2 separate regions of the Homo sapiens genome follow, and region 1 is linked to region 2. Evidence: fine-mapped expression QTL. A gene starts in region 2. The other region holds a variant in brackets. All regions are shown on one strand. Distances are between the middles of the regions. Region 1 has its middle 28 kb from the start of TRIML2. Region 2 holds the start of ZFP42 (ZFP42 zinc finger protein).

What was found.
Region 1: its variant is fine-mapped to the expression of ZFP42 in lung (TOPMed, PIP above 0.99).

The regions. Positions count from the first base shown.
Region 1 is chr4:188,080,026-188,082,937 of GRCh38, reverse strand. No RefSeq gene overlaps it. Among named protein-coding and RNA genes, the nearest start is that of TRIML2, 28 kb to the left of the region's middle. RefSeq lists an enhancer at 1,134-1,715. The variant CTG/G (reference allele first, on the strand shown) is at 1,306.
Region 2 is chr4:187,994,588-187,997,499 of GRCh38, reverse strand. ZFP42 (ZFP42 zinc finger protein) reads right to left here and starts at 1,729. Exons shown (of 4, transcript NM_174900.5): 1 at 1,660-1,729. RefSeq lists enhancers at 671-965, 580-1,561, 1,562-2,541.

The DNA of each region.
Region 1 (2,912 bases), 85 kb before region 2:
CCTCACTGCAGTTAATTTTTTGATCTTGCACAAAGCAGGAAAAGGAATTACAGGATAGAGAGGAGATAAGAATTCACAGGGAATAAGGAAGGAATTTGAAGCTTTGATTTTTCGGATTTTCTGACTGGAATGTGATAAATATTATCAATGGTACATGGAAGTTAAAAAACACGTAGGTGGGTAACGGCAAAACATGGGTAAATTTGCATTTCAGTTATGCCTCGACAAATTGGAACATATATAAGAGAATGAGACTTTTGACCTGGAAAAAATCAAGTATGAGATTGGAAATTTAACCTCACATGAGAAGAAGGAATTCTCTGTAATGATAGATGGATGTGGTAGAATGATAAATAGAAAGGATGTAAATGTAAATATTGCTTCTCCTTTCAAAATAGCAATTTCAGTTTGTCGTACATTTGCTACCTGCCAGGGAAGGTTCAGAATGCTTTCTATGACCTCATCTACCCTAAGTGGCAGTACTTTTTTTTTTTAACTGAGTCAGAAATAGAGCCAATACATTCAAAATCTCCAGAGAGTGATATTCAGACTCTTGAAACCTGGGCTGTTTATTCTTTCCAACCACACAAATTGTATCTCGTTAAAAGTATTTGCAGACAGATAACAGGCTCACTGGAGGGGAGAGTTGGGGAAGTCGAGGCCTGGCAAAGATGTGGAAGTGAGGTTCACATTACTCAAAGGAAGCCGTTGATGGAAACTTAAAATTATTTTCAAAAAGTGTATTTATGTAAAATAAAATTTTTAATTAAAAAACAGGTTAAAACCAGGCTGGGTGCAGTGGCTCATGCCTGTAATCCCAGCATTTTGGGAGGCCGAGGCAGGTGGATCACGAGGTCCGGAGTTCAAGACCAGCCTGACCAATATGGTGAAACCCCGTCTCTACTAAAAATACAAACATTGGCCGGGCGCAGTGGCTCACGTCTGTAATCCCAACACTTTGGGAGGCCGAGACAGGCAGATCACGAGGTCAGGAGATTGAGACCATCCTGGCTAACATGGTGAAACCCCGTCTCTACTAAAAATACAAAAAATTATCCGGGCGTGGTGGCGGGCGCCTGTAGTCCCAGCTACTCTGGAGGCTGAGGCAGGAGAATCGCTTGAACCCAAGAGGTGGAGGTTGCAGTGAGCCAAGATCACGCCACTGCACTCCACCCTGGGCGACAGAACGAGACTGTCTCAAAAAAAAAAAAAAAAGTTAAAACTATGTGAATAAGCTTTTCCCCTCCCTAACCGTTTTAGTGAGCTTTGTGTTTATCCCAGCACTCTCTGGTCAGCTAGATTACC[CTG/G]TTTTGTGTGTCTGTCTTATTTCAGATAGGAGAACTATGTGGTCATTCCAGATACTCAGAGATACAAGAGAACTTTGTATTTGAAAAAGAGGGTGGAGGTAAAAGCTCCTGTTGCAATCTTCTTAATGGTTATCATTGTTCTTTGGCCTGTGGAATTTCTGAAGCTAAAAGCTGTTCCTACATTGGATGTTAACATTCAGAGCTTCAGATAGGAGTGAGCTATAGTCCAGGAACTGTCCATGTCAATTTCCCCTGAGAATGTGCTGTCCCTATCTTCATTGTGGAGTTAGATTGCTTGTATGGAGGGAAAAGGAGAAATAGAATTCGTTTCCTAGGTCTACAGTGATGTAGGGAACATGCTTCACCCCTTTAGCCCGAAATCTCTTCCCAAATACTTATAAAAAAGACGTGTGAATGTTCATCAAGAATGTCTTCCCCACCCTGCCTGTGTTTTTATTGATTTCTTGGGGTAATTTAATTGGCTTTATGGGTAGAGCTGAATTAATGTGGAGTCGTAGTCAATGATGAATTGCTTGATAAAAATGAAAACCTATTTCCTCAATTTAGTTCTCTTCATCCTTCTGAATTACTACATTAGCTTCCCTTCTTGCCTGCGATTATAAACACAGCCAGGCTTTAATAAAGGGCCTCCTAAGCCCGCCTCAGCATCCTTTCTTCCTCACTTCTTTGCCACGTTTCTCCATAGCTTCAGTCAGAGCCAACTAGATTCCCAAATGTGCCACCCTCGCAGGCACCCCGTGCATTCTAAAAGCTTCAGGGGCTCATTCTGACAGCACAGACTTTGGAGCCATCCTTTATTTTGCTGCCATTCTGTGTTCAATCTATCAGCAAAGACTGTCAGCTCTACCATCCATATATGTCCCTCAGCAAACACTCGCCATCCTCCCTTTGACCACACTAGTTGAGGCTGTGATCTTTCATCTGGACCGCAGTGCTAGGCTCCAGCTGGCTGCCACCACACAGGCCTTTCTTGATCTGTCCTCCACAAAGAGCGCCCTCCCTGAACATTCTCTCCAATCCCCACTCATTCTCTTACCTCTTACCCTACATTATTTTCTTTGTAGCATTAATCATGACCTGATTTAACATTATGTATTTAACTTCCTGTCTGGAATGGAAACCCCATGATGGCAAAGGCGTTAAATGAATGAACAAGAAACCCAGAAAGTGTTTATTAAACAATCCCTGTATGTCGGGTATTTGCCTTACCTGAAGGAACAAAACAAAGATCTCAGCATTAATGAACAGATGAGGAAGCTTGATTTTGAAGTTTCACAGGACAATTTTATCTAAAAAACTCTACAAATTAGCTTTTGTTTGTTTTTGTTTTTTGTTTTGTCGAACTGATGGCTACTTAATCAAGCAGCTTCTCTAGTATGCCTATAATATTTCATCATGACCCAGCAACCATTAAGTTTTGCCAAGGATGTCTCCTGAGTACAGGAAAGCAAAGAGGTGAAGGAATTAGCAAAGTGATGGTGAATGGGAAAATTCCCAGGACGACAGCATCAGTTGGCCCTAATTAGAACAAAAGGTGGAAGATTCACAGAAGGGTACCTTGAAGGAAAAAATAAATAGAATTGA
Region 2 (2,912 bases):
ATCCCACCACTTTGGGAGGCCGAGGCGGGCGGATCACGAGGTCAGGAGATCGAGACCATCCTGGCCAACATGGTGAAACCCTATTAAAAATAAAAAAAATTAGTCGGGCGTGGTGGCGGGCGCCTGTAGTCCCAGCTACTCGGGAGGCCGAGGCAGGAGAATCGCTTGAACCTAGGAGGCGGAGGTTGCAGTGAGCCGAGATCGTGCCACTGCACTCCAGCCCAAGCGACAAGAGCAAAACTCTGTCTCAAAAAAAAAAAAAAAAAAAAAAGAATATGAGAGGGGAAGTAACCGAGGACGCCACCTTCATCATGAATGTCTGGAAAAGGCCCCCAAGGAGGGGGCCATCGGAGCCAGATGTGGGCAGGAGGAAAAGTGCACGGGGGTGGGAAGAGACGAGCGAAGCCTGCTGGTTCCAGGCTGCCGGCGCTCCCCGGGGGCTGCAGGCCATGCTCCATGCTCCACGCTCCATGCTCCATGCTCCACGCTCCACGCTCCATGCTCCATGCTCCCTACAGCTATGGCGGGCAGGAAGGTGGGGGCTGGGGCGAGGCCCAGGCGCGGGGCTGACGGTGAGCCCCGGGACCATTTGCATTTCATCCCAGGTCCCAAGGAAACCATTACAGGGCTTCCAACAAGCAAACAGCAAGTTTTTTTAGGTTAGAAGATGGGCCGGACAGCTGCATGGAGAATGGATTTGGGGAGAACAGAAAAATCTATTAGATTTGGGAATCCCGCGAAGGGCTGCCAGGGGTTTGGAGCAGATGGCGGCAGAGGAGATGAAATGCAGGGAGAGCGGGAAAACAGGAGAAAGAACCACCCCCTCGCCCTGCAGCTCGCCGGTGGATTGGATGAAGAGCGGAAGGGAAACAGGAATCAAGAATGAGTCTCGCCCGGCGCGGTGGCTCACGCCTGTAATCTCAGCACTTTGGGAGGCTGAGGCGGGCGGATCATCTGAGGTCACGAGTTCGAGACCAGCCTGACCAACATGGTGAAACCCCGTCTCTACTAAAATACAAAAATTAGCCGGGCGCAGTGAAGGGCGCCTGTAATCTCAGCTACTTGGGAGGCTGAGGCAGGAGAATCCCTTGAACCCGGGAGACGGAGGTTGCAGTGAGCCGAGATCGCGCCATTGCACTCCAGCCTGGCAACAGAGCGAGACTGTCTCCAAAAAAAAAGAAAAAAGAAAAGAAAGAGTCTCCTAGGTTTTTTGCTAGAGTAATTTGAGTTGGGGGTATTGCCATCTCCAGAGATAAGAGGAGAGGAAAAGAAAGGGAAGAGACTGGTGTCTTGATCACAATGTAAGCATGTTAATATAGAAAAGACTTAGCCAGATATTGTAAGGAAACATATTTACATGAAGTTTTGAAATAAAATAAAAAATGCAATTTAGGAAATCACCGCCAGACACTTGCTTTCTTGAGAGTGTATTACTTGCCCATCTGCCCGTTTTCAACATTTGAGGCCAGTGGCCAGCCACGGGTCACCGCAGGGCGAGGGCTACAAGTCTCCCGGCGAGGCCGGCTCCGGCCTGGTCCCAGGATGAGAACACGCTTCCCCTCCCTGACTATCTAACCCCTTTGACCGACACATTCCAAGTAGTGAGCAACACAACCCCCTTCTCCCCATTTGAAAAAAGTTCCATGAAACAAGACTCACCCCTGTTACCGCGAAGCACTCTGCTATTTCCAATGCCACCTCCTCCCAAACGTAAAACAAAGGAGAAACTGCAGTGGAAACGTGGACTGCCCTGCGCCCCCTCCCAAGACCCACCCTCCGGACTGACGCGGTCTAATCAGGCTACAGCCACCCATCAGCTCCGCCAGGGTTAGGGAGGGCGTGGCCGGCCCCGCCCTGGGGCGCCGCCCTGGAGCCACCTGGCCCGCGCGTTCACTCTCTGCCCGGAGCCGCCTGGCACCTGGGCGGCGCGCTCACCCTCAGCCCGGGGCCCCCAGGCACCCGGCCCGCACGCAAACCCTCAGCCCGGGGCCCCCTGACCCCCGCGTTCACCCCTCAGCCCGGCCGCCGGGCACTGCGCATCCGCCACGTGGCAGCGCCTCCAGAGCCCAGACGCCCGGCGTTGGCACGTGGTGAGCGCTCAATAAATGTCTGTTGAACAAATACGCGTGGGTGTAATCACATTTACCCTTTTAGGCCGGACGCGGTGGCTCACGCCTGTCGTCCCAGCACTTTGGGAGGCCGAGACGGGGGGATCACATGAGGTCAAGCGTTCGAGACCAGCCTGGCCAACATGGCGAAACCCCGTCTCTACCGAAAAATACAAAAATTAGCCAGGCATGGTGGTGCTCGCCTGTAATCCCAGCTACTCAGGAGGCTGAGGCAGGAGAATCGCTTGAACCCGGGATGCGGAGGTTGCAGTGAGCCGAGATCGCGCCACTAAGCTCCAGCCTGGGTGATAGAGCGAGGCTCCATCTCAATAGAACAAAACAAAACATTTACGCTTTTGCAGATCGAGGAAAAAAATCAAGCGGAGGAGGCAGTTTTTACCCCCCGAAATAGAGGTTGACTCGAACGCAAACCCCCACACCTTTCCCACCCCACCCTACCCCCAGTTGTTTCAAACACCCCCAGTGTTTGTTTTCTTTTTTCTTTTTCTGGCCATTAATGTGACTGTATTGCTAAAGGCAACACAACTCACTTTGAAAGCAATGGTCAGTCAACGCTCACTATTGGCTACAGTCTAGTGAAATGTAATAGGTCGTATAAGTACACCCAGACCATTAGAACGAAACCCAGATCGATATTTAAAAACCTCCTAAATGTTGACTTGAAGCTTTTCTGCATATATATCTGGGAGCAGTTCTCCACTTTTTTCTTTTTTTAAATCTGTTTCTGAATAAGCTTCAATTTTGAGGTTGGCCAATAAAATATAATTTTCCTTCCTTCCTTCC